Homo sapiens: one gene and its partners. The protein of the gene in region 1 purifies or fractionates together with the protein of each later gene. This does not show direct contact. Each region holds a gene or a part of one and is shown in the gene's direction. Other genes may lie near its edges. The genes, in order: CBX3, POGZ and CHD4.

Region 1 (3,654 bases):
GGGTAATGTAGGGAAGGAGGAAATGATTAGTATCTGCAGTACAGAGGACTTTTTATTCCCCCGGGTGTCTATTAAAATAGATCTGGATAATGGTGATGAATCATATTTAATTCAATCACCTTTTTTTTTTTTAATAAACTAAACACAGTGCTGACAATACTTGGGAACCTGAAGAAAATTTAGATTGTCCAGAATTGATTGAAGCGTTTCTTAACTCTCAGAAAGCTGGCAAAGAAAAAGATGGTACAAAAAGAAAATCTTTATCTGACAGTGAATCTGATGACAGCAAATCAAAGAAGAAAAGAGATGCTGTAAGTATAAAATATTGCCCACCAGCTTGTCCTTTTGTAAAAGGTTGATGGCTTGATTTCTTTTTTGTTTGTTTGTTTTTTTGAGATGGAGTCTTGCTCTTGTCGCCCAGGCTGGAGTGCAATGGCATGATCTTGGTCACTGCAACTGCCGCCTCCTGGGTTCAAGCGATTCTCCTGCCTGAGCCTCCCAAGTAGCTGGGATTATAGGTGCCCACCACCACGCCCAGCTAATTTTGGTACTTTTAGTAGAGATGGGGTTTTGCCATGTTGGCCAGGCTGGTCTTGAACTCCTGACCTCATGATCCTCCCGCCTCGGCCTCCCAAAGTGTTGGGATTGTAGGCATGAGCCACCACGCCTGGCCTTTTTTTTTTTTTTTTTTTTTTTTTTTTTTTTTTCCTGGGAGACAGAGTCTCCCTCTGTCACCCAGGCTGGAGTGTAGTGGTGCAGTTTCGGCTCACTGCAACCTCCGCCTCCAGAGTAGCTGGGATTACAAGCGTGTACCACCACACCCAGCTGGTTTTTGTATATTTAGTAGAGACGGGGTTTCACCATGTTGGCCAGACTGATCTCAAACTCCTGACATCAGGTGATCCACCCGCCTCGGCCTCCCAGAGTGCTGGGATTACAGGCGTGAACCACCACACCAAGCCCACCTTTGACGACTTGCTTTTTTAAAATTCAGATACTTTTATAAAAGGCCTCTTAATCGTATTTTAAATATTTTAATACTTAGGACAATAAGGATGGGCGTGGTTTAGCCTACTTTGTGTAAATGTGCAGTAAGTGCTCATGCCACTTAGGTTGTGCTAGTGCAATTTTTCTTAGTTTCATGGATTTGATCCCTGATCAGACCAATTACCTGTGATCCAAGGCTAGCAATCTTAAATACAAACAATACTAAGATTGGATTATCGAAAGCCTTTGCACTACAGTAAGAACAACGCAAATAGAACTTTCTGATTATAGTCCATCAATGGCATTGACCACCGAAAAGTACTTGCATGTCATCTTTGTATTGCCAAACAATACCTTGATTTTGAAGTCTGTAATCTTTGATAATAGTTAAACACTTTTCTTGGCATGAATTGAGACATTCAGTTCATTCACTATACATGTGTTTTGGTCCAGTCTTTGCTTTACTTATGTCTCTGTGGCGTCAGGCAAATCAGGTAACTTCTTACTTACACCCTTGATTGTAAAACAGATTATACTTGTCTTGCCTACTGACCTAGTGTGGCAATTTGGGGAAACATCTTGGTGCTGAATTAGGTTCTAGGCTCAGGCACTAAACATGATTTAAAACTTGATCATTTGAACTAGAAGCCAAGTACAACCTTCAAGACAACTCTGTATAAGGTCATAGGTATAATCACTATTTTACAGATGAGGAAACGAGATTGACTACAAATTTGGTTTTGAAAATAAATCACATGCTCAACAGAAGCAGTTTTGGCCAGGCACGGTGGCTCGCACCTATAATCCCAGCACCTTGGGAAACCAAAGCAGGAACATCGCTTGAGCCCAGGAGTTGGAGGCCAGTTTGGGCAACATAGTGAGACCCCATCTCTACAAAGAAAAAAAAAAGAATCAGCAAGACGTGGTGGACACCTCCTGTAGTCTCAGCTACTTGGGAGGCTGAGGCAGAAGGATTGCTTGAGCCTGGGAGTTCAAGGTGCAGTGAGCTGTGATCATGCCAGTGCACTTTGGCCTAGGCAACGGAGCAAGACCTTGTCTCAAAAAATTATTAAATAATAAATCAGGCACAACTTTAACAACACTTATTGAGTCCTTAGCATGTGCTATACTGTGTGCCAAATTATTTGCTTTTAATGTGCTGTGAAATATCTGTGCAGTAGATACTAAAATTCTGTTTTATTAACCTAAACCACAAAGAGGTTAATTAACTTGCCCAAAGCCACACAGCTCGTAAGTGGGGTAGGTCCATCATTCTCACCCAGGCAGTGTGACTCCAGAGCTTGTGACATTGATGTAAAACTCTGACAGGAATAAAGGATTTATTGATATCATTGGTTCTCAAACTTTTTTTGGTCTCAGGGCCTCTTTATACTCTAAAAAAATTATTGAGGATCCCCAGAGAGCTTTTGTTTATATGGGTTATAATTATCAATACTAACAGTAGAAATTAAAACAAATTTCTAAAATGACTTTTCTAAAAAAGCTGAGAAGAGTAGCATTTTACATTTTTACAGATATTCAACATGTGTCTTAAGGCAATTTTACTTAAACACATTTGATTGCTGTGGCGGATCATTTTGGTGGAGGTATATGAAGACAATCCAAAGTCACAAATAGATGAAAAAAGGGGGCCTTACACAACCCCCTCCCAAAAAGGACTCTGGAATCCCCAGTGAATCCGTAGACCACATTTTGAGAGCCACTGGTTTATATTAAGTACTTTCTAGCGCAGGGGGTCCAATCTTTTGGCAGCCCTGGGCCACATTAGGAGAATTGTCGAGGGCTACACATAAAATAGACTTAATACCAACCATAGCTGATGAGCTAAAAAAAAAAAAAAAAAAAATCGCAAGAAAGTTTCAATGTTTTAAGAAAGTTTACAAATTTGTGTTGGGCCTCCAAAGCCATCCTGGGCCACAGGTTACACAAGTTTGTTCTAACATTTACTATCATTTAGAATGATTACAGATAGTTGGTATGAGTTTTAACATTTTTAATATTTCTTACCGTTTGTGTTTTGTTTATGCTTTTAAAATGTGTCAGTAATTCAGACTAATTCCTGGAAGTCATTTGAAATATATTAACTTTCAAGACTTTATTATTACCAGAAATAAAGAGGTTAGTTTTTCTGTATGCCCACACAACTCTGACTTTGGTGTCATTGAACGCAGTAATTTTCTTGACTTTTTATTCTGAATGTTTTCAGAAATTTTAAGTATTCTACGTTGAGTATCAAACTCAGGTTTTTCTGCTTGTAAAGTTAATGGAAATCAGATGTTTTTAATTACCAAATATGGGTTCTTGCTCTAGTCATTTCCATCTCACTATTGGAATGTTTTTATTTAAAATACGCCATGAAAACAATTTAATACTCTGAGTTTGCTGTATGAAAAAATGTCTTCTAAACAGGCTGACAAACCAAGAGGATTTGCCAGAGGTCTTGATCCTGAAAGAATAATTGGTGCCACAGACAGCAGTGGAGAATTGATGTTTCTCATGAAATGGTGAGTATGCAGAGATTGTTACATTTGAAAGTAAGAGTAGCTTTTTTTTTTTAATTTGTGAAATGGTTTTTCATCATTAGGTAGGGAAAAACTATCTGCTGAGAGGATGATTCTGGTTACTTTTACTAGTAGTGTTTTAAAG
Region 2 (3,654 bases), on another chromosome or scaffold:
GGTTGCAGTGAGCCAAGATCACTCCAGCCTGGGCAACTGAGCGAGACTCCATCACAAAAAGAAGAAAAAAGAAAAGGGTGAAAGAATTCTACAAGGAACACTTAAACTATCCACCACCTAGACAGAGTGACTTTTTTTTTTTAAGACAGAGTCTCGCTCTGTTGCCTAGACTAGAGTGCAGTGGCACAATCTTGGCTCACTGCAACCTCTGCCTCCCGAATTCAAGCGATTATCCTGCCTCAGCCTTCCGAGTAGCTGGGACTGCAGGCACCAGCCACCACGCATGGCTAATTTTTGTATTTTTAGTAGAGACGGGGTTTCACTGTGTTGGCCAGGCTGGTCTCGAACTCCTGTCCTTGTGATCCGCCTGCATTGGCCTCCCAAAGTGCTGGGATTACAGGCGTGAGCCACTGCGCCTGGTGACAGGATGATTTTTAATGTTTTGGCCCATGCCAAATATTTTTTGAAAGTTGGCATACTAGTATCTATAAGAAAATATCAAAATAGCCCACCTGTAGTGACAACTACTTGGGAGGCTGAGGCAGGAGGATCACCTGAGCCCAGGAGGTTGAGGCTGCAATAAGCCGTGATTGTGCCACTGCACTCCAGCCTGGGGGATAGAATGACACCCTGTCTCAAAAAAAAAAGCCAAATATCTATGTATTTGCTTAACCCCTTGAAAGTCACTTTCAAGATATTTCTATTAAATATTTTGTGCATTTCCTAGGAATAAATACATTCTCCTACATGAATATAATATGATTATCCTTTCTGTTTAAAAATTTTTTAGAGGGATCGGTTCTGTTTCCCAGATTGGTCTTGAACTCCTGACCTTAAGCAATCCTACCACCTTGGCCTGCCACCATGCCCGGCCAACATTGACTTTTTTTTTTTTTTTTTTTTTTTTTGAGACGGAGTCTTGCTCTTGTTGCCCAGGCTGGAGTGCAATTGCACCATCTCGGCTCACTGCAACCTCCACCTCCCGGGTTCAAGCAATTCTCCTGTCTCAGCCTCCTGAGTAGCTGGGATTACAGGTGCCCACCACCACGCCCGGCTAATTTTTGTATTTTTAGTAGAGACTGGGTTTCATCATATTGGTCAGGCTGGTCTCGAACTCCTGATCTGAGGTGATCCACCTGCCTTGGCCTCCCAAAGTGCTGGGATTACAGGCGTGAGCCACCGCGTCCAGCCGAACATTGACATTTTTAAAGAGACTTCTATTAGTTTTATAGAATGTTCCATATTCTGCATTTGATTATTTCCTTCTAGAATGTCCCACCTTCTGGATTTATCTCATTATTTCTTTGTGGTGATACTTAATTTGTTCTTTTATTGCTGTATTTCTTGTAAACGCAAAGTTACATTTAAATAATGGATTTGGGCCAGGCGCGGTGCCTCACACCTGTAATCCCAGCACTTTGGGAGACTGAGGCGGGTGGATCACCTGAGGTCAGGAGTTGAAGACCAGCCTGACCAACATGATGAAACCCCATCTCTACTAAAAGTACAAAATGAGCCAGGCATGGTAACGCATGCCTGTAATTACAGCTCCTTGAGAGGCTGAAGCAAGAGAATCGCTTGCACCCAGGAGGTGAAGGTTGCAGTGAGCTGAGATCGCGCCATTGGGCTCCAGCCTGGGCAACAAGAGTGAAACTCCATCTCAAAAAATTTAAAAAAAAATAAAATAAATAAATAATTGATTTGATTCAGGTTAAATATTATTGTCAGTAATACTTCATACATTGTTTTTGGCTTTTCTTGTGTATTTGTTTGCAAAAAAATGCCATAGACAAAACAGCTGATAACTAATGTGAATTATTAGTCAGTAGTTTATTGGTTAATGTTTTTCTTTTTTCTTTCCCTTTGAGGCAGTCTCCTGTCTCAGCCTCCTGAATAGCTGGGATTACAGGCGTGTGCCACCACACCTGGCTAATTTTTGTATTTTTTTTTTTTAGTAGAGACGGGGTTTCACCACATCTCTGGTCATGGTCATGGCCAGGCTGGTTTTGAACTCCTGACCTCAAGTGATCCACCCACCTCGGCCTCCCAAAGTGCTGGGATTACAGGCGTGAGCCACTGCACCGGTCCTGGCTAAGGTTTTTCTATTTAAACATATTACAATCATAACCTTTGGCTTTTGAGATACAGAGCTACTGTAACTTTTAAGTTCAACCATAAATAAGATTTTTGAGGAAGAACATAGAAATAGGTTTCCATTTTGTCACTTTGAGGCATTGCCCTCTGCAAAAATGATTTGAAAGTTGAAGAAGCTAGAAGAGTTTATATGTAGCAAAAGTAACCTGTAGAGGAATTGTAAAGGGGCCACAACAAGAAAAAATTTAGAACTGGGGAGGCTGGGCACGACTGCTCATGCCTGTAAAACCCAGCACTTTGGGAGACCAAGGCAAGCAGATCACTTGAGTCCTGAAGTTCAAGACCAGCCTGGGCAATATGGCAAAACTCTAGCTTTATAGAAAATACAAAAATTAACCAGGCGTGGTAGCACATGCCTGTAGTCCCAGCTACTTGGGAGGCTGAGACGGGAGGATTGCTTGAGCCCAAGAGGTCGAGGCTGCAGTGAGTTGAGATCGCGCCACTGCACTACAGCCCAGGCGACAAAGACCCTGTGACCTAAAAGTTGTCAGATGAATATGAAGATAAAATCAAGTTCCTGGCTGGGTGCTGTGGCTCATACTTGTAATCCCAGCACTTTGGGGAGGCCAAGGCAGGTGGATCACCTGAGGTCAGGAGTTCAAGACCAGCCTGGCCAATATGGTGAAAACCCATCTCTACTAAAAATACAAAAACTAGCCAGCCGTGGTGGTGGGCACCTGTAGTCCCAGCTACTTGGGAGACTGAAACAGGAGAATTACTTGTACCCGGTAGGCGGAGGTTGCAGTGAGCCGAGATCGTGCCTCTGCGCTGCAGCCTGGGTGACAGAGCAAGACTCCGTCTCAAAAAAAAAAAAAAAAAAAAAAAAAATCAAGTTTCACAGGTAGGTGATTATAGGATGAAACAGACTAGATATATATGGATTTTATAAAAAAATTTTTAACATACAAGATATAACCATTTGAATAATTCATAAGAACCTTGTTCTGCTCTCTTGCAGAGTTTTTGAGACGGAGTCTCGCACTGTCTCCCAGGCTGGAGTGCAGTGGTGCAGTCTGCAAGCTGCATCTCCCAGGTTCATGCCATTCTCCTGCCCCAGCCTCCCGAGTAGCTGGGATTACAGGCGGCCGCCACCACGCCTGGCTAATTTTTTGTATTTTTAATAGAGACGGGGTTTCACCGTGTTAGCCAGGATGGTCTTGATCTCCTGACCTCGTGATCCGCCCACCTCGGCCTCCCAAAGTGCTGGGATTACAGGCGTGAGCCACTGTGCCTGGCCTGAGAGGACAAATATTTTTAAAAAGAAATGATAGTTCTTTATGTATAGAATGTGGGATGATTTTTTTTTAATTGCCCTCGTTTTCAGAACATGTATTCAGTTTGATCAGTGATTTTCAGTCTTGGCACTATTGACATTTAGGGTCGGATAATCTCCAGGCTATCCTATGCATTGTAGGATGTTCTGTAGCACTCCTGGCCACTACCCACTAGATAGGTCAGTAACACCTCTCCTCACCCCCACCCTGATTGTGACTACCAAAA
Region 3 (3,553 bases), on another chromosome or scaffold:
AGACTAGCTCGGGCAACATGGCAAAACCCCATGTCTACAAAAAATACAAAAATTAGCCAGTTCTGGTGGCGTGCACCTGTAGTTCCAGCTACTTAGGAGGCTGCAATGAGCCTAGATTGTGCCATTGCACTCCAGCCTAGGCATTGGAGTGAGACCCTGTTTTGTTTTGTTTTTTCCTGAGACAGTGTCTTGATGTGTTGCCAGGCTGGAGTGCAGTGGCAAGATCTCTGCTCACTGCAACCTCTGCCTCCCGGGTTCAAGCGATTTTCCTGCCTCAGCCTCCCGAGTAGCTGGGACAACAGGCGTGTGCCACCACGCCCAGCTAATTTTTGTATTTTTAGTAGAGACAGGGTTTCAGCATGTTGGCCAGGATGGTCTCGATCTCTTGACCTCATGTTCTGCCCGCCTCGGACTCCCAAAGTGCTGAGATAACAGGCGTGAGCCACTGTGCCCATCCAAGACCCTGTCTTAAAAAAAAAAAAAAGTTCTCGAGAGGGAATTGGAGTAGGGACGGAACTCACAAATGGCTTTATGGAGAAGATGGCATTGGAATGAAGTTTTGAAGAATGCGACGGAGATTTTTTTGGTAGAAACAGAAGGGTATCTGAACAAAGGGATTAGGTTGGGCAAAGATGTGAGCCAGCAAAGCTTAGTATGTCTGGAAATAGCAGATAGCCCAGTTGAGCTGTAGGGAAACATTTGTGTTGGGTGATGGTGGGAGGTAGGTTGGAACGAGAAAGGTGGACGGGCTAGAGGTCAGTAGGTGGGTTCTTGGCACCAGATAAGAGAGTTTGGACTTTACGCTATCGTTAATGGGCAGCCACTGAAAGTTTGTGAGCAGAGTTTTGATAGGACCAAGGGAAATGGAAACAGCATTCATAAGATTATAAAACTGTCATATAATCATGAGGTGTTAAGGGTCTGGGCTGTGATGCTGGTTGTGGAAAATGAAAAGGGTAAAGATAAAGGAAACAACACCAAAGAATTTATTGGACTTAGTGACTTACTGTAGGGGTCAGCAAACCTTTTTTTCTCCCCCCAAACCAAAAACGGTTAATAAAACCCTTTTTTTTTTTTTTTTTTTGAGACAAAGTCTTACTCAGTTGCCCAGGCTGGAGTGCAGTGGCGACATTTCCTGGCTCACTGCACCCTCTGCCTCCTGGCTTCAACCGATTCTCCTGCCTCAGCCTCCTAAGTAGGTGGGATTACAGGCATGTACCACCATGCCTGACTAATTTTTGTATTTTTAGTAGAGATGGGGTTTTGCCATATTGGCCAGGCTGGTCTCAAATTCTGGACCTCAGGTGATCTGCCCGCCTTGTCCTCCCAAAGTGCTGGGATTACAAGTGTGAGCCACTGCACCCAACCACACCTTTTCTATTAAAGGGCCAGATAGTCCCTTTGTGGGACATGTAGTCTCTGTTGCATATACTCAACTCCATCTTTGTTGTGTGAAAGCAGCCACAGGGGATACATAAATGAATAAGTTAGGATGTGTTTCAGCGTTTCATCTATGGATATTACAATTTGAATTTTGTATAATTCTCATGAAGTGGCATGAAATAGTCTTGTTTTGACTTTTTGCCAACCATTTTAAAATGTAAAACCCATTCTTAGCTCTTGAGCCATATAAAAACAGGTGGTGGGGCAGATCTGGCCCACAGGCTGTAGCTTGCCAACTCCTGACTTACTGGATTTGAGGTACAGAATGAGTGAGACTGAAAATAACATTTTGAGCCTGAGTCACTGAGAAAGTTAAATTGTCATTTAAGAAGAGAGGGAGCAGTTTGTAGAAAAGAATGATATCGAATTTTAGACAAGTCTTTTGGTATTTCTCACAAATCAGCACCCCTCCCACTACCGACCCCCATCACCATACACTAGTGGGATCAGAACCAGTGCTGAAGGTACATGTTTGAGAAGCATCAAATCATCTGCATAGAACTGCTGGCTGACACTAGGAGAGGAGAAGGGTATGAGAAATCTTCTCTTATGTTGAGTCATATGTTTTATGAATATATTTTTTAAGTAATTAAAATCTTTTCATAAATTAAGAACCAACATTCTGCCTCTTGGGATATATTTCAAAGAATCTTTAATACAGCTCCATCAGATGACATGTGCATGAGTGTTTTTGCAGTATGATTTTTGGTGGTGGGGGCCTAGAGGCAACATAAATGTTCAGCATTAGGAGAATGCATAGGTGAAACATGTATTCATATCATGGGGCATTAAACAACAGAAGCAACAAAATTCATGTGCATACAACATAAGAGTACCTTTTAAAAGGTATGTAGTGGGAGAAGAAAAAGCATTTTATAGATACAGAAAACATCATTCTGTAACTTAGAAACATACATAGGAAACAGAAACAGTTTTTAAAAACCTACACAAAAAGCCACAGTATTACTACATTAGAAAAGTTGCTTTTCAGAGGAATGGGAGTGAGATGGCGATAAGAGGAAATAAAAAACAAAAATATTTTTAAATAGCAAAATAACCCCTTTTTTTTTGAGACAGTTTCCCTCTGTCACTCAGGCTGGAGTGTAGTGGCGCGATCCTGGCTCACTGCAACCTTTGCCTCCCGGGTTCAAGCATTCTTCTGCCTCAACCTCTTGAGTAGCTGCAGTTACAGGTGCGCACTACCATACCTGGCTAATTTTTGTGTTTTTAGTAGAGACGGGGTTTTGTCATGTTGGCCAGGCTGGTCTTGAACTCCTGACCTCAAGTAATCTGCCCGCCTCAGCCTCCCAAAGTGCTGGGATTACAGGTGTGAGCCACCGTGCCCAGCCAAAACATGTTTTTGAAGAGTAGTTGATAAAGAGTAGATGATAAAAAGGAAGATGCTTAACTGTGTAACTAAATGAAAACATAATATGGGTATGTATATAGTATGATCTCAGTTATGTAAAAAACTATGCACAAAAAAACCTAAAAAGAAAAATATCAGGATGTATTTCTAGAAGGTGGGATTATCTGTTGTTAAAAATTTTTGATATTCTATTTTCTAAATTGAGTTTTTATCGCTTTTGTATAAGAGAACCTAAAGGGTAAAGAGTTTTAAAAATGAGGACATTGAAAAAGGGAAAGAAAAAAGTTACAAGGCAAAGTTAAACTACTTGGGTGTGGGAATGAGCTGTCCATGAAGTTCTTCATAGGTTCTTATTACCATCTGAAACAATGAGAGGTGAGCTGAGAGGCCAGTCAGAAGTGAGTAAAGTGAGTTATCAGTCGAACTCCCGTTTCCTCTTATCCCTTGTCCAGCTCTTAGAACAAGCTCTGGTGATTGAGGAACAGCTGCGCCGGGCTGCTTACTTGAACATGTCAGAAGACCCTTCTCACCCTTCCATGGCCCTCAACACCCGCTTTGCTGAGGTGGAGTGTTTGGCGGAAAGTCATCAGCACCTGTCCAAGGAGTCAATGGCAGGAAACAAGCCAGCCAATGCAGTCCTGCACAAAGGTAGCCAGTGGCTCCCCTGCCTCCTGCCGATTCGGCCTCCCTGATCTGACTGCATCCTAATGTACATATATTTGTTTTCAAACTTTCAGAGCT

What was found.
Region 2: the proteins of CBX3 (region 1) and POGZ purify together in Homo sapiens (affinity purification with mass spectrometry; 7 studies listed by BioGRID and IntAct, with this or other methods). This does not show direct contact.
Region 3: the proteins of CBX3 (region 1) and CHD4 purify together in Homo sapiens (affinity purification with mass spectrometry; 6 studies listed by BioGRID and IntAct, with this or other methods). This does not show direct contact.

The regions. Positions count from the first base shown.
Region 1 is NC_000007.14:26,208,245-26,211,898, forward strand, and holds part of CBX3 (chromobox protein homolog 3), read left to right. Parts: intron 1-148; coding exon 149-311; intron 312-3,417; coding exon 3,418-3,512; intron 3,513-3,654.
Region 2 is NC_000001.11:151,449,352-151,453,005, reverse strand, and holds part of POGZ (pogo transposable element with ZNF domain), read left to right. Parts: intron 1-2,057; exon of another isoform or gene 2,058-2,096; intron 2,097-3,654. UniProt on the Homo sapiens protein: Plays a role in mitotic cell cycle progression and is involved in kinetochore assembly and mitotic sister chromatid cohesion.
Region 3 is NC_000012.12:6,572,981-6,576,533, reverse strand, and holds part of CHD4 (chromodomain-helicase-DNA-binding protein 4), read left to right. Parts: intron 1-3,264; coding exon 3,265-3,460; coding exon of another isoform or gene 3,461-3,463; intron 3,464-3,553. UniProt on the Homo sapiens protein: ATP-dependent chromatin-remodeling factor that binds and distorts nucleosomal DNA. Acts as a component of the histone deacetylase NuRD complex which participates in the remodeling of chromatin.